3 separate regions of the Homo sapiens genome follow, and regions 1 and 2 are each reported to be linked to region 3. Evidence: microRNA targets listed by miRTarBase, many of them from high-throughput screens and not tested one by one. Region 3 holds a microRNA gene; each other region holds the end of a gene's coding sequence.

What was found. The annotated mature microRNA hsa-miR-605-3p reads AGAAGGCACUAUGAGAUUUAGA and lies in region 3 at 3,876-3,897, shown strand. An mRNA with a match to its seed (bases 2 to 7 or 8) in the 3' UTR can be bound and repressed. Matches are read on the target gene's strand: a 7mer-m8 pairs with bases 2 to 8, a 7mer-A1 pairs with bases 2 to 7 and ends in A, and an 8mer does both.
Region 1: the mRNA of FANCF is a reported target of hsa-miR-605-3p. Seed matches in the 3' UTR shown: 7mer-m8 at 6,401-6,407.
Region 2: the mRNA of PSMD11 is a reported target of hsa-miR-605-3p. Seed matches in the 3' UTR shown: 7mer-m8 at 5,301-5,307 and 7mer-m8 at 4,887-4,893.

Annotation. Positions count from the first base shown.
Region 1 is chr11:22,618,204-22,625,371 of GRCh38, forward strand. FANCF (FA complementation group F) reads right to left here. Exons shown (of 1, transcript NM_022725.4): 1 at 4,330-7,168. The coding sequence ends at 6,483. Among named protein-coding and RNA genes, the nearest start is that of FANCF, 4.0 kb to the right of the region's middle. RefSeq lists enhancers at 6,510-6,669, 6,680-6,729, 7,110-7,168.
Region 2 is chr17:32,479,761-32,486,958 of GRCh38, reverse strand. It overlaps PSMD11 (proteasome 26S subunit, non-ATPase 11), which reads right to left. Exons shown (of 14, transcript NM_002815.4): 11 at 7,073-7,108; 12 at 6,762-6,813; 13 at 6,328-6,470; 14 at 3,640-6,206. The coding sequence ends at 6,328. Among named protein-coding and RNA genes, the nearest start is that of CDK5R1, 3.6 kb to the left of the region's middle. RefSeq lists a silencer at 77-606 and an enhancer at 679-1,180.
Region 3 is chr10:51,295,748-51,302,945 of GRCh38, forward strand. It overlaps MIR605 (microRNA 605), which reads left to right and starts at 3,826; the gene lies at 3,826-3,908. The region is part of intron 2 of PRKG1 (protein kinase cGMP-dependent 1); the gene reads left to right.

The sequences.
Region 1 (7,168 bases), not on the chromosome of region 3:
GTCCAAAAATTCATCCAAGAGTCAAGTCCTAGAATCAAAGACCTCAGGATCACACTTAGTCCCTTCCTCCCCTTGCTGGTACCCAACATGTGGGAAAAAAGGTCCCCTTTACTTTTCCCTCAGCTTTTCTTAAGTAGAAGATTTTTGCCCCCTAGCCACCATTGCTGGTTATGTACAGAGTCTCACCTGAAGCCAGCAAATCTCAGAGGCTCACCAAGGCCCTTGATATAGTGCCTGGGTATCACTGTTGGTTATTCAGGGCCCAAGGGCTCTTCAGTTAGCAGGTGATAAATGCTGCCAGTAGTGGGTCCTTTCCTTCAAGGCAGCAGGTTCCATTCCCTTCTGGCCCAGAGTGTATCTAGAAATGTCACCTGGGAGGTAGTGTCTGGAACAGGGGCCTCACTACTCTGACCAGTCCCTTATTCTGTTGTGGCTGGGCTGGGATCCTACAGGCAAAACAAAGTCCTCCCCACTCTTCCCTCTCTTCTCCTCAAGTGAAAGGGAAGGGTCTCTTTTGGAGTCATGAGCTGTGCCACCTGAGGTTAGGGGAGGAGTGACGACAGAACTCCCTTGGCTGCCCCAGCTGGTTTATCTGTATGCCGTGTGCCCTTCCAGTCCATTGTCTATGGGCCTAACTCAACACAAGGACTTGCCTAAGAGTTTATGGCCTAGATTGCCTTTCAAGTTTACTTGGAGACACAGAGTGCCGTAGCCTCTAGCCCATGGTGGTGAGAGTTGCAGGAATTCAGGTTCCCACTAGGGCTGGTTTAAATTCTCCCTCTGTGGGAAGGATGAGTGTGGTCCAGTTTTCCTTTCTGCTGTAACAGGACAGCACTGAGTTCACTGCTTTACAATTGCTGTGTTCTCCCTCCCCCAGTGCTCAGAGGCTGCTGCTGCCTGGGGTGAGGAAGGGGTGGCATTTGTGATTCAGGACTGTTTTTTAATCACTTCAGTACCTCTTTTGGCAATATGTAGTTAATACCAGATACTATGAGTTCTCACCTGATTTTTGGTTGCTATGAAGATGTTTTTTCTGTGTACATATGTTAACTCAGTGTCCTTGCTGGGGAGGCAAGGGAATGATTGGTTTCTGTTCGGCCATCTTGCTCCACCCTCTTCCTGATATTTAGAGTTGGTTTGGATGTTTGGTTTGAGAGGCTTGTGAGACATTCAAGTGGGGATATTGGTCCTGAAGCTATGATGAGACCTCCAGACTAAAGATATAAATTGTGAAATTCATAGCATATAGGTAGTATTTAACGCCACAGAAATGGATGAGATCACACGGGGTGAGAGCACTACACAAAAGAGGCAGCAGAGTTATTAAACACTGAGAAATCGTGAATATTTAAAGGATGATTAGGAGAAGAGGAGCCAGAAAAATAGACTCTGAAAACATTGCTGGAGAGGTAAGAGGAAACTAGAATAGAGTGGTATCATATAAGTTATAAGAATAGAATTCCAAGCCCAGTTTCAAAAAAGAGGGGATAGGCCATGGTATTTAATGCTGCTGAGAGTCAAGTAACTGAATACCAGAAAAGTGTCTGATATGGTTTGGCTCTGTGTCCCCACCCAAATCTCATCTTGAATTGTAATCCCCACGTGTTGAGGGAGGGACCTGGTGGGAGGTGATCAGATTGTGGGGACAGTTTTCCCCATGCTGTTCTTGTGGTAGGGAGTTCTCATGATAGTGAGTTCTCGTGAGACCTGATGAGTTAAAAGTGTGCCACTTCCTCCTTCTCTCTCTCTCTCTCTCTCTCTCTCTCCTACAGCCTTGTAAGGAAGGTACTTGCTTCTTCTTCACCTTCCGCCATGATTGTAAATTTCCTGAGGCCTGCCAGGCCATGTGGAACTGTAAGTCAATTAAACCTCTTTCCTTTACAAATTACCCTGTCTTGGGAAGTTCTTTATAGCAGTGTAAAAATGGACTAATACAGTGTCCTTTGAATTTAGCATCATGCAGGTGATTGGTGAGCTTGACAAGACTTATTTCAGAGAAGTGTTGATGGCAGAAGTTAGGTTGGTGTGGGTTAAAGGGAAAGAGGACTTCCACTTTTAGCAAATCAATAACTAGATATTCCACAGGGCCCAGCTGCTACAAAACAAATAGATTCTCAATATAACATTCTTTGAATGTTTTGTTGGGATTTCAGAAAATAAAGGAAATTTCCAAGCCACCCCTTCATATCTGTTTCTCCAAAACAGGGAGATCTGAGTAGTAAGCAAGTAAGATTCAGAAAATATGCTTTGAGCAAGACATAAGGTAGAAAAACTCAAGCCAAAACTCTTACAATAAACCAAAGTAGTCCTAGGTTAGGGGGGGTTCTCTATTTCTCCAGCAGAAGCATTTAAAAATGCCCTCATTGGGCAAAGAATACCCTATTTAGACTCCTAGGTTTACATAGAGTATAACCAAACACATGTGAACACACAATAGGAAATTACAAAAGATGTAAAGAAATAAGCCGTCATGAGTGAGAATCAACAGAATAGGTTTAGATCCTCAATACTTCAGGTTGTGAAATAATTAATAGATGATAAAATAACAATGATAAAAAATGAAAACAGAATCACAAAAAGCATGCCATATGAGATTACTAAAAGGTAAACAGGCATATTAGGAGAAAAAAAGCCAAATAAGACTTTTTAAAAATCACTGAAATTTAAAACCAATTGATAGCTTAAACCTCAGATCAGACAGAATTATCAAGACTATACCAATACTACTTAGGGTTATAGGCAATGTTGATGACATAAGACATCCCGAGCAGTGTTCATAAGAGAAAGGTGTATTCCTCTCCTATATTAACAGGACAAGCTAGGTAGGTGGGCTCTGTTTTGCCATTCTGTACATGTGACTTCATCTTTGGGTCTACAGCAATTGTCCCAGTCATCTTCAGCCATATGATTCAAGGTAGCAGCAAACTAGCAGCAAATTAACTTTCTAGCCCATTAAAAGGGAGAAGCAGAGTATTAAGGGCAAATAACTTCAGATTTCTAGGGAATGAATATTAAGTTGTACATATCACTTCTGCTTATATAAAAGTAACCAAAACCTAGCATTATCGCCACATGTAACTGTAGGAGAAATTGGGAAATTTACTCTCTATCTGGGTGGCCATTTTCAGCTAAAACCTGGTGGTAGGCTAAAATGAAGATGGGGAATATTGATCTTGGGATATAACAGCAATTTCCAAAGCAAAATAGAATGATATGGAGATAGAAACTGGGACAGAGCGGTTACATGATATGAGTAGTGTGAGAAGATCTAAGATCTAATATAGGCCCGATCAAAGTGACAGGAATGATTTTTAAAAAGTGGAAGAAAGGAAATATTGGGGAAAAATGGCTGGAAATTTTTCAGAATGAAGAAAAACACATATCCACACATAAATGAAACACAACATAAAACAAGCAAGAAAAACAGAAATTTACAATTAGATATTCTGAAGTGACTATAGATACTGAAATCGGGACCACCTTAAAATAAACAGAAAGAAGAAATCACTCTACAAAATAACCACAAGTAGACGAATAGCTTTCTTATCAACAATGAAAACCAGAAAAGAGTTAATATCTTTAACATGTTAACCTGAAATCAGGAACACAGCAAAACTACCTTCCAACAACAACAAGGAACGATCTTAGTAAATAAAAACTGAGTTTACCACCAAGAGACCTTCTCCAAGGGAATTTGAGGTACAATCATGGGAAACAAAATTGTTAAACCAAAACACTGGATAATAACTTGAGAGTTTATAGATAAGAGATCAGGGTTAAAGTTTCCTAAGGTCCATAGTATCATTAAGAAGGAGGGTTAAGATACTAATATTAGATATTTTTAAGTTAAATATGGTAAGTTTTGAGAGTAAAAGCATGGGTATAGAATTAACATCCTAACTGGTAGAGGGGAAAATATCATGAAATAAGAAGACAAACAAATATTTAGTCAATTAAAGAACTGAGAAGTGAAACATAGAGAAATCAAAGGAAGTGGAAAGCACAAAATAGGATAGCAGGAAAAAGTCCAATCATACAGTGTTAATATATGACAATGATAATAGAAAAAAATAGACTTTAAAGCAGAAAAGCAGTCACTACAAACAAAAGGTTCAATTCATTAAGATGATATAACGATTCTATATTTGTTTGCATGTCATAAAATTGCTCAAAATACATAAGATGATAATTGATAAAATTTCCTGAAACAATGTTACAATGGGAGATTTCAATAGTGCTCCCTCATTTGATAGGACATAGGGAAAAAACACAAAATAAATATCTCTAGATTTTATAAAGAAGTTATCAAATATTCTATTTTTATAGTCTTCCTCTCACTTTTTTCTCTCTCAGTGTATGCGTAGATTCCTAATCTTTTCAAGTCCTTAAGAGAAAGTATATAAAGCTCTAATGCTGGTTTCATTTATTCAAACACTACAAGTATCTACCATATGCTGGACACTGTGCTAGGCTTCTGGAAATAAAATAAATGACAGATACGGCTTCCACTTTCATGTTGCTTTTGTTTATACCCTTGGGCATTTTACTTAATCTTTTAGCGTATATTCATAAGAATACAGTTTTGGTGTGAAGATTAAATAAGATTATGTATGTAATGAACATATGGAGACTAAAATAACAGAATAATAAATGGTAAGTATAAAATAGATTTTAAAATGTTATTTCTTAAGTCTATTGTCAATCTTTACAATTTTATTGTAAATCATAGTGTGAGATACAGCTGCAAATATAGGGAAGTAAGTTCACAAACTGTTATTTTCTAAAGCTAAAGCTAACATTAGGCCTTGCTATGGTAGAACTCTTCACTGGGTTGTTTCTTAAAAAAAATTCACGCAACTGACAGGAGGAATTGTCTTTATTCTTGCATTAATGATAAATGTAATCTACAAGATGGCCTTCATGGATTAGAAAAAGGAATCAGACCACAAGGAAAAAGAAATTGCTGGTTTTCACTCAAGATTTATCTAGAAAAGTGTACTGACTACTGGAATAATAGTTTACCCCTGGGTTGTACCACAGAATGAGAAATTCTACAAGATTATACAACTCTTTTTCTACAAGATTACACTACTCATATTGTTTTTATTCCATTCCGGAATTAGAAATTAACTTTCTAAATATCATTTTTTTCTCCAAAAAAATCCTCTTACCAGCTAACCTGGATATGGACAAAAATATCTTGATTGCTGTAAAGGTCTATCTCCCTAGTAAAAATGAATAAATTGCCCTTGAATTTATTCAAGGCAATCACTATCAGCTGTGGAACACCCAGGTAAACTAACACAACTAGGTTCCTACACACAAAACAAATATTCTAAACTGTTTCCACAGGGCAGCCACCAAGGGAAAAATAAGGAAATTTAACTATTTTATTCTAAACACTTCATTTACATATAAGGCAACTGTGGCCCCAAGGTTGTGATTTATTAACCTAGTTAACGGCAGAAGCTGCACTAAAACCTGGATCTTCTACTTAAAATGTTGTTTTGGCCAGGCGCGGTGGCTCACGCCTGTAATCCCAGCACTTTGGGAGGCCAAGGCGGACGGATCACAAGGTCAGGTGTTTGAGACCAGCCTGGCCAGCATGGTGAAACCCCGTCTCTACTAAAAATACAAAAAATTAGCCGGGCATGGTGGCCTGCGCCTGTAATCCCAGCTACTTGGGAGGCTGAGTCAGAATTGCTTGATCCTGGGAGGCAGAGGTTGCACTGAGCAGTGATCACACCACTGCACTCCAGTCTGGGTGACAGAGCGAGACTCCATCTCAAAAAAAAAAAAGTTTGATTCTTTTATCATCAAGCATTAATTTAATATCCAAAGGCATATATTCGTATTTACTGTGCTTTAAACATTTGTCTGTGCGTCAATGCTTTAAAGGGACATACTATGTGGTGATTCATTTTCAAAGTAAGAATTTGCAGAAAATGAGAAACAAACTTTCTGAACAATACAATTTTAATGCATACTAAGGCTGGTTAACTGGTTAGAATACTAGGTTAACAAGGCCAAACTCCAGATAGGCCAACAGCTTTTCAAACCAATATTCCTGACACTGCCAGGAATAAAGAAAACTCTTCACTACTGAGGGAGGGACAGAAAACCTAGAAAAATAAACCATACTAAAAGAAAAAGGGTATTTTGTTTGTCACTTTAAAGCTGCTTTTTCTTTAAACGGTACACATATTTTCAACATTCTTACAAATGGGCCTTCTATTAAAAAGCAAACTATTGCTAATTCCATGGCTTTAAGTGGAGTACTTCCAATCACTTCCTCTATCCAGAAAATCCGTGACACTACATGCCAGCTACTTTGCATATTTATAACTGTTTAATAAACTATTCAAAATTAGCATCTAAAATAATTATACTTTGGACACACGAAGGCATATATTTGGTGAGAACATTGTAATTTTCATTTTGTAAACTATATATTCTATATTCAAGTAATAACACAGCATTGCCTATACAGAACTGAGGCCTGCGCTGAGACCCAAAACTTGTCTTTTCCTAAATGCACCACTACGAAGAGCTAATAAGAGGTCTGTCCAGATGCTAAGACCAGGTACTTCAAAATCTCCATCCTGCGCTTTACAGGTCTCCAGGGCAGTTAGAACTTTATCTTTCAGAGGTGGAGGGGCCTGACAGAGGCTTTGAAACCTATTGTGCAACTCCTCCCAGGGCACATCTTGGGACTCAGTTCCAACCCAAATGCCTTTCTGAAGGTCATAGTGCAAACGTTGACCCCAGTCTGTTAGCAGACCCAGATAGACAGGAGACAGCGCTGGGTGGCGGCTAGTCACTAAAGTCAAAAGCCCGGCTGGGAGGGCGCGACAAAAGGCAGCAAAGACTTCCGAATTCCCCAGAAGCCAGTGGACTAGCACTTGGCTCCCCTCTCCAGGTGATTTGTGGATGCCGGGTTCCAACTCTTCTTGGGGCCGACGAGACAAAGGCGGCTGCAACAGCGCCACCGCTATCACCTTCAGGAAGTTGTTCTGAGGCAAGCGCTCCCACAGGCTGCTGAGAAACCTGGCGGGACGCTCCGCTTCGGCCTTCCCCACCTCCTGCAGACGCTCCAGCAGCAGCTCCGCCTGGGTCTTCATCAGAGAGTCCTCCTGGAGATTTGGGTTCTCTCTATAGCCATTGAAGC
Region 2 (7,198 bases), not on the chromosome of region 3:
CCGCTCGGCCGCCCGCACCTTCGCCGCCGCCGCCGCGCTCCCGCTCCCGCTCCCGCTTCCGGCGCGCGCCTCAGCGCCCTCCCTCGCGGGGCGCGCGCGCCGTCCACGCTCCGGCCTGGTCTCGCCGGGGAGTCGCGGCCGTTGGTGTCCTCAGCTCGAGCCGCGCACGGTGCGGGTAGGACGCGGCAACGAGCGGGAGGCACCTCTACGCGCCGGGCCCCATCTAGGAGCCGGACTCCGCGGCTGCGGCGGGACACGCGGCGTCGGCCCGCCCCGCCCCTCGGGGCCGCCCCTCCCGCACAGCTCGCCGCCCGCTCCGCGCCGCCGCCCAACAGCAGCCCGGCCGCCGGAGAGTCCTCGGCGCCCGCGCAACCCAACTCTGCCGACGCGGGGCGGGCGCCGAGCAGGGCGGAGCCGAGGGCCGACCCCGCCCGCGTCCCGCCCAGACACGTGCTGCCTTTGTTCCCGCCGCGGCGCCCGCAGCTGCCGGCCGCGGGGGCACTCTCGGCCGAGTCCCTGCCCTGGCAGCGCGCGGCCCGCCCTCTCTGAGGCTGCCGCCCTGGCCTGGTGAGGAGCCCTCCGCCGAGGCCAGGGTCCGGAGCTCCCTCCTTCCACCTGACATCCCCGTCCCTGTGGAAAGCAGCCAGGGAGCGCGGGGAAGAAGGCCCTGGGCGGGGAGAGGCGACGCCTTTACTGAGGCCTCCCGAGTGCCACGCGCACCTCGAGTGGACAGTCCAATCGGTTCTGGCCACCCCTCCGGGGCCTCCGTTCCCTCATCATGGGTAGATGACCGCGGCCGAAGTGGGCCTCAGAGATCCAAGCCAGAGAAGCGTGGCCCGTAGCCAAGCCTGAGCCCGTCACAAATATGACCTCTAAGTTCCCACTCGCCCTCTTATTTGTCATATTAAAGCTGAAGCAACTGCCCCTCCGGCCAGCTTTCTGACCCTCTTAAACGTTTTCAATTCTAAGTATGTATAATTTGAGAACTTGATGCTAGCGAAATTGAGTAAAATTCTGTTTCTGAAAGCTGTTCCTGTCAGATGTGAATCCAGATCCTTCACAAAGGCTGTTGTTCATTTACTATTTTACCTTGTTTCTGGAGATCGAGTCAAAACTGACCACAAACCTGGGAAACAGGAAACTTAAGCCCTGTCTTAATCCAGATTATCTCTGGACCTAGAGATGAGGGAGTGGCTCTCCAGAGGAGAGGATGCCACCCAGTTACCTGACCACTCCAGCCGACTAGGCTTTCACCAGCCCTGTCAACTGTCCTAGGGGGAACAGAAAGGGAATCTGGCATCATTCAAAATGGTGCAATCAAGGCAGAAAGTGCTGGGTTTTGTTTATGTGCCACTCAGATTTCTGTCAATAGGAATTCCAGGCTTTAGGAACCTTGGGGGGCAAGGCATACAGTGGAAAATGCATTGCTCTGTACCCAGAGGGCTACTTTGTCCACAGCCTTTCAGAACATCCACAACAGCTGTTATGGGAACTCAGAAGAGGAAGGCAGGCCCCCAGCTCAGTGCGCCCCTCCCTGTGAATGTTCCTCAGTGTACAAGCCTACCTGCTCTTCAAATGGAGCTGTCCTCAACCCTCCTGCATGTAACAGTAAGAAGCCAGAAGAGGCCGACGCAGTGGCTCATGCTTGTAATCCCAGTATTTTGGGAGGCCGAGGCGGGTGGATCACCTGAGGTCAGGAGTTCGAGACCAGCCTAGCCAACATGGTGAAACCCCGTCTCTACTAAAAATACAAAAAAAATTAGCCAGGCGTGGTGGCAGGCACCTGTAATCTCAGCTACTCAGGAGGCTGAGGCAGGAGAATCGCTTGAACCTGGGAGACAGAGGTTGCAGTGGGCCGAGATTGCACCATTGCACTCCAGCCTGGGCAACAAGAGCGAAACTCCATCTCAAAAAAAAAAAAAAAAAAAAAAAAAAAGCCAGAAGAAACGATTTGCTTCGAGACCCTGACCAAGTGTCCCTTTTCCTTCTCAAAGGAAAGCCGAACCCCAGCCTCTTTTCCTCAGCCCTTACTTGGAGCCTCTAGCTCCTGAGTTGGCTCTGTGCCCCCCTTCAGATTCTAGTGTTGAGCCAAGGTTAAATGTTTTCCACTTCCCAAAATATGTCCAAATTTTGAAGCCTATAATCCACCCCGGCCAGGCGTGATGGCCACACTGTGTCCAGCAGTTTCAGAGGCCAAGGCGGGCGGATCACCTGAGGTCAGGAGTTTGAGACCAGCCTGGCCAACATGGTGAAACCCGTCTCTACTAAAAAAATTAGCTGGGCGTGGTGGCGGGTGCCTATAATCCCAGCTACTCGGGAGGCTGAGGCAGGAGAATAGCTTGAACCCGGGAGGCAGAGGTTGCAGTGAGCTGAGATTGTGCCACTGCATTCCAGCCTGGGTGACAGAGTGACACTTCGGCTAAAAAAAGAAAAATCCACCCCCTAGAAAAACCTGGGCCCACTCTGTTACCTTTAACTCTCAATCTCAATTCTAGCTATTCCAATTCACGGGGAGGCGGACCAAGCTCACCCCACTACCCTGCTTCCCACTCTGCAGCAGCATGCCTCTGCATGGGCCTTTTCAAGCCAGGCCATACCCTGTGTCTTCTCACCTTTGTCCAGCCAGCCTTTCCCTAGCACCTTCAAACAGAGCTCTCGGCAGAACACCAGCCTCCTCACACTTGCCCAAGGCAAAGTCACAGTTGCAGCACAGCAGGAATGGGATGGCACTGGCAGCCCACTTGCTGCTGCGACTAAGGGAGGGGTCTCCAGGAGCTCCTATCACCCAGGCCATGCCTGTTATGCTGGTTTTCAGACACCACAGAGCTCCTCTTTTCATTCAACCCACCACCACCTCCCCACCCCCAGTTCCTATCACTGCTCCAACTGGAAGCAAGGAAGAAAGGACAGTCAACTGCCAGAAATGGCAGAACCAAGGACCCAGAAGGCAGACCCAGTTGAATGAGGCAGAGCTGTTTTCTTCCTAGCTGCCTTCATCATAGAACTGCAGGGAAGATTTCCAAATCCCACCCCCATCAATCAGCCTACTTAGCCTATTGCCTATCTCTAGCTGCCTGAAGGGCCAGCCTGCTTGTTAGCTTCCCTGCTGGGCTGGGCTGCCCGTGGACTGCCGGAGAGTCCACTCTTCCTGCATGCCCCACTTCCCATAGCATCCCGAGGGAGGGAGGTCAAGGCGGGGGCCAGCTACAGCTTCCAAGAAGGGTTCCAAATAGAGCAGGCCTGAGCCCTTACTCCTGAGGAAGTCGGCTTTGTTCTTTCAGGGATCACAGAGCAGCATCTAGTGGCCCTTCTGAGCAGCACAGATTACATAACTAGCACACAGCAGGGGACCAGAGCCTCTGCTCCCAACTCCAGTAGAGTCTCATTAACACACAAGAAAGTCCTGGCACCATGAAGGCTGGAGCCCAGAAGGGAGGTGAGGGAGCCGGGCCCAGGCCAGCCCACCGGCCAGCTGACCTTCCCAGCTGTGCCTGGACTCAGGTCATGAGAGGCCTGGGAGAGGAGGCAGTGACACAACTGCTGGTCCTGGAGGTCTAGAGCTGCGCTGTCCAGATAGAAGCCACATAGGTAACTTTATATTTTCTAGCAGCCACATTACACAAGTAAAAGGGAAACAGGTGAATTTTAATAATATATTTTATTTAACCCAATACCCAAAATATTTCAACACATATATAAAAAAGTTATTGACATATTTTACACTCCTTTTCTTTTGTTATCATACTAAGCCTTCGAAGTCTGGTTTGTGTTTACACTTGCAGTGTATCACAGCTCGAACCAGCCACGTTGCAAGGGCCTGACAGCTGCACATGGCTAGCGGCTACATATTGGACAGCACGGGTCTAGAGGGCATCATCTGACCAAGACCCGCAAAGGGAACTGAGAAAAGGGCTACTGCCTGAGCATCTCAGGACTGCCCTAAGTTTGAGAAAACATCTCCCCTCTACTCCAAAACTAGATCTCTTTGGAGTACTTTTTAAAGTCCTTTATAGAAGCAAAGCTCTTTCTGCAAGTGAAATACAGAGACACAATACTAAAACTGACAATGGCTGAACTGCTCAGACTGAAGAGGATTTAGCAGGTCCCCCAGTGGTCCCAGAGCCCCCCGCCCCCGCCAGGGTGTGAGGCAATATGAAAATCGCTGCCTTTGAAGATTCCAAAAGGAAACGAAACCACAACTGCATGTCAGGACTCTCCAGACACCTGCACGTCTATGACTTACTAAGCTTCACATCACAATCACCTGCCAAGGAAGCAGCATCCTCACTGAGTAGAAGAGAAAGTAGGCTCAGAGGATCTACTGCCCAAACTTACATGTGCTCACTGGACCATGCTGCCCTGGAAGAAGACACCTGAACTCATTTCCAACCTCAGAACTCACACACCAACTTTCTTGCCCCCAAAGCCCTCCAAGTTTGGACCCCAAATTTACCTTAAGGACTCCCATTACACAAATGAGATAACAGCTTTGGCCAGATGAGAGCTAGACTAGTGTGGGGCCACACAGAGCTGTCTGGACTTGCTTGGAAGCCCTCCAGCACTCAAGAAAAAGACACCTTTTGAAAAAAAAAAAAATTATTTTTATTGGAACTCATCTGAACATCAGATATACCTGGTGTTGGTTAGCAAGAACCGTTTGTACATTTGATACTGATGGTGCCAAAACCAAAACAGTGACTAGACATGATGGGGAAAGATGTTGAGAACAAAAACCTGATTTTGGAGAGGAAAATAAAAGCCAGTCAGATTCAGTGAGGATGCAAAACCTGGTACAACAAAATCCTTTTACAAAATATAAATTTATTATGAAAACCTGGAAGGATAATCCAAGGAAGGTAAAGAAAGAGAAAAGGAGGCCAGCAGAAGAAGGCAGGAAGGAGAGGAAAAGAGAAAAAGACAAAGAGGAGATGAGAGAAGAAAATACAGTTCAGCACAACAGAAGTGCAGAAGCTCACCTACCCAAATGGCATTAAAGCCTCGCTGTGTAATCGTGTCAGAAAACAAAGCATACTGACACATAGTGCTCTACTTCCCATCCACTTGAGTTCTAAGAGGTAAATTAAAAAGCTCCCTGGGAAGGGGACATGAGGTTGCTCAAAAACCCAACAAAGAAAATTAAAAAAAAAAGAGAGAGAGAAACCACACCCCACAGTCTCATTTCCGATGTTCATTGTTTAAAAAAGGAATAAATCCATCTGAAAGTAGGAGAGGAGGAGTGGGAGAGGGAGAGAAGCTCATGGCTTTCACAGACAGCCTGACTCCCCTGGAGGGGAGAGGAGGAAGGCAGAGAGACATGATGGTCTCCTGGTTGAGAGGGGAAAGAGAAGGGACAGAGAGGAAAGAAGAGAGGAGAGGAATGCAGGAGAGGAGAAGAGGGGCAATTAAAACACTGACGACTAATCTAGTTTACTGTGTTTAAAAAAAAAAAAAAAGCCACATGCATAGCAGGCCCCTTGGGGGCTAAGGGCCCACACTGCTCCCTGTGTGGCCGTGGTAGACACTAGCTCCTGGCCTCATCCCCATTCCTTCACAGGTCAGAGTGGAGCTATGCAGGCGCTGCTGCTGCTGCTGCTGTTGTTGCTGCAGTGGTGGTGGTGGTGGCGGCGGCGGCAGGACCTTCGGCTACTCTGCTGGAGCCAATGTGGGGAGGGAAGGGCAGACAGGCCGTATGGTAGGGGAAAGAACACCAAAATGCCTCATTTCAAATAAAAAAGAAAACAGCAGTCTATACACAGTTGTTTGTTTTGGTTCAGTACAAACAGAATAAAAAGTCATTGCTTTTGATGGTCAGCAAACACCCAATTCTGAGGAGGAGGAGAGGTGATGCCCAGCAGGTGGATTAGGACCCCCAGTGGTTGGCGGGGTGCCTGGCTTTGCGGCCCTCTCCCAGGAGGCAGAGAGCACAGCTTTAGGTAGTGTAAGCCTTTTTCCTTTTATTTAGAATAATCTTTTTTTTTTTCTTTTTCTTTTTTTTTAAGCAATTTCCCCACTCCCAAGTTGGGCCAGTAAAGATTACATGAAAACTGGCACACCTATTGGCTGGAATACAGATGCACCAAATGAGGATTTAAAAACTTTCCGAGCGAAAAGTAGAACAAAAAGAAAAAAGAATCTCCTAGCATTTTCCCCCAAGGTTTCACTCTCCCGCCACACACACTCTCCAAAGGACCGCTACAGATCCAACTCTGCAAGAGAAGACAGAGCAGTGTCAATCAGGAAGCCATGAGGACACCAGGAGGAGGTTTTCAGTCTCGACACGCAGAAGACAGAGCTGCCCAGCCCTGGGGTCCTGAAGCCAGCACTCACCTATGTCAGTTTCTTGGCTTTGTTGTAGAGGGAATCCACTACTTTGCTCATGTTCTGAATTGTTTCCAGAGCAGCTTCGTAAGTTTTATCTACTGGGGGTTCATCGAAAATAATCAGGACACCCTCCCCCTGGTCCAAAATCCCTGCAAGAAACACAAGGGCAACCCAGGTAAAAGATGAGGTTAGACACAAAAGTGTTTGTGAAGCAGCCCACTCCCTAGTTGACTCACTGTGTCCAGAAAAGAAGGGAAATAGAATTCATCTCCCTATTCCATGTACACATGCTTATTACACATTCTCATCACAGGGAAGAGGGGCCAGGACCCCAGGGTGAACCATCGGGGGAAACAAATAGAACATCTTCTTTGAAAATAAACTTCTTCAACCATCTCATCACCACCACCAGCCCCCTTGCCTGTGTGACTGTTACTTACCATGAAATTTCTTGTCAAGAATCATCTGTGATAATTTCCTTTCCACGTCGGCCTAAAATCAAAGCACATGATTAAAGGGACCAGTATCCACTAGTCAGAGATCACCCTGACACAGTAGCTTTGTTGGAGGGGTCTTAGGCCAAATGGACTGAAAACAAAATAGCAACAATGCAACTCCTACTCTAGTCCACACTGCCCATTCCCCACTGAGAAGCTGGGGAGCTTTCCAATGAGGCCAATCAGGTGCATGTGCCACCCCTCCTCGCCACCCCGTCCCATTCCTCCCTGCAGATGGCCTTAAGACTCCTTACCTTGGAGAGTTTGATGAGACTAGATATGTGTTCAATCTAAAAGGAAAGGCAGAGAGACACCAACACTGAAAGTTTTACTTTTGCCTCCAATAAGAGAAGGGAGGGAACAGGGGGAGAACTGCTGTA
Region 3 (7,198 bases):
TATACCAGAAATTAAAGAAAAACTTTCAGTTTTCCTCAATGATTATTATGTTAGCTGTGGGCTTTTCATGTATGGCCTGTATTGTGTTTAAACAATTTCCTTCTATACCTATTTTGTTGAGAGTTTTTATCATGAAAGAATGATGAACTTTGTCAAATGCTTTTTCTGAATCTATTGAGATGATCATATTGTTTTTGGCCTTCATTCTGTTAGTGTGGTGTATCACGTTGATTGATTTCCTTATGTTGAGCCATCTTTACACCCCAGGGATAAATACCACTTGGTCACGGTGTATGATCCTTTTAATGTTCTGTTGAATGCTGTTTGCTAGTATTTTATTGAGGATTTTTGCATCAGTATTTATCAGGAATATTTGCTTTTAGTTTCCTTTTCTTGTTGTATCTTTGTCTGGTTTTGATCAGGATGGTCCTGGCCTCATAAGATGAGTCTGGAAGTGATTCCTCCTATTTTATTTTTTTGGAAGAGTTAAAGAAGGATTGTTATCAGTTCTTCTTTGATTGTCTATTAGAATTCACCAGATGAGAAGTCATCTCATCCTGAGCTTTTCTTTTTTGAGACACTTTTGATTACGGACTGAAATAAATGTCTTCCTTGTGCAGTTTGTCTACACTATCCTATTTCTTCTTGATTCAGCTTCAATAAGTTGCATATTTGTAGAAATTTATTTATTTCCTTTAGGTTATCCAGTTTGTCAGCATATAATTGTTCACAATAGTCCCTAATGATACTTTTCATTTCTGAGGCATCCATTGTAATATCTTCTCTTTGATTTCTGATTTTATTTATTTGAGTCTTCTCCATTTTTTCTTATTAGCCTAGCTGAGTTTGTTGATTTTGTTGATGCTTTCAAAAAATCAACTCTTGTTTATGGATTTTTTTATTGTTGTCTGTTTCTTATTTGATTTACTTCTCTAATCTTTATTAATTCCTTCCTTCTGATAATTTTAGGTTTAGTTTCTTCCTCTTTTTCTAGTTCCTTGAGGTGTAAAGTCATGTTGCTTATTTGAGAATGTTCTTTCCTAGTGTAGGCATTTATGTTGTATTTTTGTTTTCATTTGCTCTGAAATTAAACCTAGTTACATTGCCGCCTCTGCTTTTCCATGTTTTCTTTAGTCTGCTTTTTAGCTTTACCTTTGTCTATTCTTTCCCTCTTTATTTAAGATCTCTTAACTTGAATAAATATAACAGAGTGAACAGTGAAGGGGTTATTTCATTCCTTTTGGGAGGATATTCCTCTGTTTTAACCTTGGCTTCTAGGACTGACTGGTCATAAAAGGAAACAATAAATGCAAAGCATTGAGTCCAAAAGTGGAGAAAAGCCACAGTTCATCTTCCCTGGCAATAATATGATAGTATTATTTTAAGATTCAGTGAATTCTGTTCTGCGAGCTGTAAGATTGGTTGATTTGTAATAGGGGGAAAAAGGGCATGTTGTGGGGAGGGTAGACATTTAGAGAAAGTAAATGACCTTGAGGGTATTGAACTCTGTGAATCAACTTGTTCTCTAAAGTTAGGGGACATACCACTTCTAGATGGTGAACCTGTGGGTGTTCATTTGAACAGTAGAGTCATAGAAAAACTTTACTATCTGGAATATAATAAAAATGCTGCTTTAACTGCTAAGTCGCCATCTGTTACCAGCTCTTTGCTACTGGTTTATCTTTTTTCCTTTTAAAACGTGAATTCTTGGATTTTCATATTATAATTTTATACTTACCTTAAATTAGGATTGAGAGGAAACTTTGACAACACCTCTTAAAAGAAAATTATTAACTTGTAAAAATCATACTTTTAGGTTTGGGTAATAGCTGGGGAGAAAGCAAAAGCAAATCAGGAAGCTTGTAGGTGACTCATGTGCATTTCTATGTATGAGCAACAGGAATGGTAGAACTTTTGTTCCACTGCAGTTGTACAATCTAATTATTCACTGATCAATCTACACATACTGCATTACTATGTAGGTTTTAAGATGGCATCTTTGCCATATGTCTCTTTTTTAACCTTGATATCTTACATGTAATAGGTTTTCATCAGTTTTGATGAAATCATGATGATAATGATTACGATAATGCCTCCCATTATTTTCTCTTTAGTATAAGGCATTTAATGGCTTTTCCTAAAAAATAATGCAAGCAGTTCTTAACCCTAACAATGAGGGATAGAGTAGGTGTCCTTACCTACACTTGTTACTATAAGTGATATATTTATATAAAGAGATGTATGTAAAGGAAATTCATTCACTCATTCATTTATGTACCTAACCATTATTCCTTCATCAGTTCTTGTTAAGCACTTACTATATTAGGCCCTGTATACATTTTACATGAATTATCTCCTAACCTTATAACAATGGTGTGTAAAGAAACTAATATTATCCATTTTATAGATGATAAATTCATGATTAGGGATATTAATTATGATGTCCAAATTTGCACAGGTGGCAAATGATACATTTGAAATCTGAACCCACACAATCTAATTCAAGAGTTACATTGCCACTACTTCAAAAAATGTGGTTTATTTTATAGGCAAAGAAAAGGCACTGAATTGAATATTATGACTAAGCTTGTGATCTTAAAAGATTTAGGTTCTGAGTTGGACCTGATTAAAAATTCCAGCTCCACCAATTACTGATTACATGAACCTGGTGGGAGTTGTTCAGTCTTTCCATACTCCAGGTTCTTCCTTTTTCAACAGTGTTGCTGAGCCATTAAATGAAACAGCTTTATGTAGAAAGCACTCAGCATAGTAAAATCATTATAAATGTTAGCTATTACACACTTACTTCTCTCCTTTTCTGGAGGAAGGGAGAAGATGGGTTTTTATTTTACAATCTTATTTTATAAAACTATAAGCCTGGAGTCTAGGGGGTAATGTAGGAATTGAAATATGAAATGGTTCTGATCTAAGGTAGAAACATTAGATGGATGAAAGAATATCATGCCGATAGAATTAAAAATTGTTAGGTTGGAGTATTTTATGTGGGCTGAGAGTAAAATAAATCTACAATTTGTGTGAGTGGTAGAATGTGAAGCGATTAAATAGGATAGGGAATTGGAAGGGAAGTGCTAGGACAATTCCTGGCACATAGTAGGCATGCAACAAAAGGTTGGAAGCTTGATTGCTGTGATCTGTATGCAAAGATCATATGGTTGCATAAATGTGTTAATATTGTTCTTTGGTAAGTGTTTTCCTGGTATTTAAGTGCAATGGAGCACAAAGGTTTGTTGTCTAAAGTGTAATAATGAAAGGAATATGACCATTACTCCATCTGTCATTTTCACTCATGCCTTTAAATGAGCCCTTTGCTCCAATAAAATGGTTCAGTTAATGGTTCCTTAAAGCCACACACACTTACCTGTCTTTTTGCCTTTGATGAATTTATTGCTTAAGACTTTAGCCAGTATCTCTTTTTGCCCATTCTTTTTATCTGTATTTATTTTTATATGTTTTTTGAGATGGAGTCTCACTGTGTTACCCAGGCTAGAGTGCAGTGGTACGATCTCGGCTCACTGCAACCTCCGCCTCCTGGGTTCAAGCAATTCTCCTTCCTCAGCCTCCTGAATAGGTAGGATTACAGGCATCCTCCACCATGCCTGGCTAAGTTTTGTAATTTTAGTAGAGATGGGGTTTCACCATGTTGGCCAGGCTGGTCTTGAACTCCTGATCTCAGGTGATCCACCCACCTCGGCCTCCCAGAGTGCTGAGATTGCAGGTGTGAGCCACCATGCCCCGCCTCTTTTTGCTCATTCTTTAAAGTAGGAACTTTGGTAGAACTTTCACAGCCTGTAACATATGTCTCTAGCCCTAGCTTGGTTCTAAATCCCATGGTGCCTTCTCCTTGGGAAAAACAGAGAAGGCACTATGAGATTTAGAATCAAGTTAGGACTGCAGATACAGGTTACCTATGTTACAGGCTGACAGCCACAGGTATATTGCTCTCTGCACATGTGTTTTTTCCTGGCCTCTCAATGACATTATAAGCTTCTATTATACCTCATGTGGCGTAACTGCTCTGCAATAATAGAAATTCAATAAAGGACTCTTTAATTTACAATTAAAGTCAGGATTGAATTTTGTGGAAAATCTTGATGCAAATGTACAAAAGAACTTCAAGAAAATTAGAATGCCATGAGTCATGCATTTCCTGGTACTATTCATTCTTCTTTAGGTACTATCATTCTGCTCAACCTAACATTTCTACCACCTACACCTACCATCTGGAATTATAGGCAGAGGGTATGAAGGGTGTCAAATCTTGAAAGAAAATTGCCTTTTCTCCAAAGTTGATGAAACTAAACCACAGTTGATTGGATTACTTGCTCAGCAAGAGAGTAGAACCTTGTCTTTATGAATTAAATGTCACTATTTCGTCTATTTGAAGATGACCTTATAGAGGATCATGGCTTACGACAAGTTATTTTGCTGAGGCTTGAATTTGAATTGTGTGTTGGTGAATGAGGCACTGCACACACAGTCAGAGCAGCTGCTCTCCATGCAGCTTTTCTTCTCTTTGGTTTTCTGTATCATACACAGTAATCCTTGGGTGTTATTCACATCTACTTCTTGTGGAGTAATAGTATATTATAGTGGTATCATAAATTCGGGATTTATGAAAGTTGTGGGACATACCTTCATGTGAATCTCAGTGGGTTACTGTATTTAATGATTTTTTCTCTTTTGTTTTGATTAAGAAGCTCTTTGCTGGGATGCTGAGTTCCGATTTAAATATTATACACCCTTCTTATTTCTCTCTGCAAAATTATAGCCTTGCTGATGAATTTTGCTTTACTCTTGAGTGTGGTTTACTTTTGCAGCAAATACAAATTTAGTAAGTTAAATCTAAAAGCCACAGTTAAACACAGTTCTCCTTCAGAGGTAAGAACCATAACTGTTTCTGTGGACCCCAGCAATGGTACCTTCTTTTACAAAACAATGTTCTTCTTGTTCCATAGTCAATTACACACTGAACCTCTGTGTTATCTGAGATCTAAGCAGCAGGGCTGCTCTCTCCAGAATTATATTCAGCAGCTGTCTCCTCCCTGTTAGCTTACCCATTCCTGATGTGTTGATTCCTTTCAGAAGGCTCCAATCCAAATAAGACTTAATTAGCAGCAGCCTGAAAATAGTGTGTCTGCCTTTCTTTTCCTGTATAAATCTTGTGAGTGCTAAGCTTCTAATTTCACTTTCCTCTTAATACTAACTGAAGGTCCCATAACTTTCTGTGGAATGTTGACTTTTTTTTTGAGTGAGATGAGCTCTTCTCATGCCAGTTAACTCTCATGTCGGTGACAGCACAATGGAGAAATATTAGGAAATCTGACAGGGAGAAACATTCATGTCTGATAGAGTCCAGCAACAGATTAGTGAAAGAAACTGGCCGTCCAAAATCATCCTCATTCATTTCCTTCACTAAGTCAAAGAAATCATTGTGCTCTGCTTAAGCCCCATGCTGAGTTCATTTTACTGACCCTTCCTTAATATTGGCTGAAGGGTATTTTTAATAACTTGGTATGTTTGGGAGTCAAAGGAGGCCAAGTTTCTGGCTAGGCTCAGAAGGGATAAAATAGTAATGGAATGTTTGGGGAATGAGAGGGAAAAAAAATGCCTAAAAGAAAGGTACCTTCTTTTAGACCTGTTTAATATAACTCCCCTAATTATTTCTGAAGTAGGGGAAAAAATATACAAAACCCTCTGAGGAATATCAATTTTTAAACATTACAGCCTTGAGTGAGCCACTTCAAAATGTGCAGAGAATTGGCTTATATTTTATTTGGAAACTAATGTTTAAGTCAAATGGAGCAACAGAAATCCATAGTAATCTATCCAAAAAAGAAAGACCAAAGGATTGGGAATAGGTCAGGGTGCAGTCAGGAGAGCCAGGCGAGGGATGGCAGTCAATGGAAGCCAAGCTGGCCCAGTCAGTCTGTGGGCATGTGAGCTGAATCACCAGTGTGGGGACCACTTTCCCGTAAGAAGCCCTGTTGTAATTGATCCTGTCTCCTGAGCCTCCCCGGCTGCCACTGGACATTGCAGGTTTGGCTTCCTGGCTATTGGTTTTGCAGTCAGAGGAGTTCAGTTCAGTTTAGTGTGTTGAGTATGAGCAAAGCAGTATGAGCCGTGAGGTATCAGGATGAGTGTGTGACTGCCTTCTCTTCTCATGTGTCATCTGTGTGAATTCTTCCCATGTATCAGCCTCTTCTAAGACGTGACCTTAACTAGTCCAGTTCCTGGTGCTCTGACCTCTCTCAAGCTACTTCACTCAGAGTGCTGATCAAATGGTTTGGAACCACAGTGTTAGCTATGTCCTTGTTCCATTTAGTCTGTAAATCCACTGAGGATGTATCTTATACTTCTTTTGAAATACACTCCGCCATTAGCACATTGAGGAGCACTACTAGGGGTTTAATTGACACCTGTTGATTGACTGGTACGTTAATTAATGTAGGGCCTTATAAGCATGTCTTCCAGAGACGTTTAAAAACTTTTATTCAAATTGTATATAACATCTACTTGACAAACATTTTTAGTAAACGTGATAATGTAGAAACAGAATTATTCCCTGTAAAATATTATTCATTTTAGTAATTTGAGATAAAGAGTTATTTGCTCACTAGATTTTATTCACTTGGCACCTGTTTATTAAGTGCCTATGGTGTGTCATAAGCACTGATGATGTAATTGAGACCTAATAATAGCCTAGGAAAGTATGAAAAAATATGAATATCTTCAATGTTGGTTCTTTCAGGCCAATATTTTTAAATGACTCATTGGTAGCAAAACATCACTTTTTTTTTTTTTTAACGAGCAGATATTTATAACTGCTACCAAAACCAGGAATAGTTTACTAAATATGGGGGTTTGAAGATATTGTCTTTAGCTGGGAAAAGCTTCCAGGCTACAAGAGAGGATAAAGACAGTGAGTAACATTTGAGATGTACTTTATTTCATTACCTAACAAACACCTATCCAGCACTCACAATGGACAGGCTGTCTTCCAAGCAGGAAAAGATTATGGAGCATATGCTGTACATATGACCTCATTTAATCACTATAGTAAGTCTATAAAGAAGGTACTATTATTATCCTCCTTTTTAAAATAGGGAACTTGAAACTCTATTTTACAGTTAAAGTTCAGAGAAGTTAAGTATTTCACCCAAGGTCACACAGCCTGTGC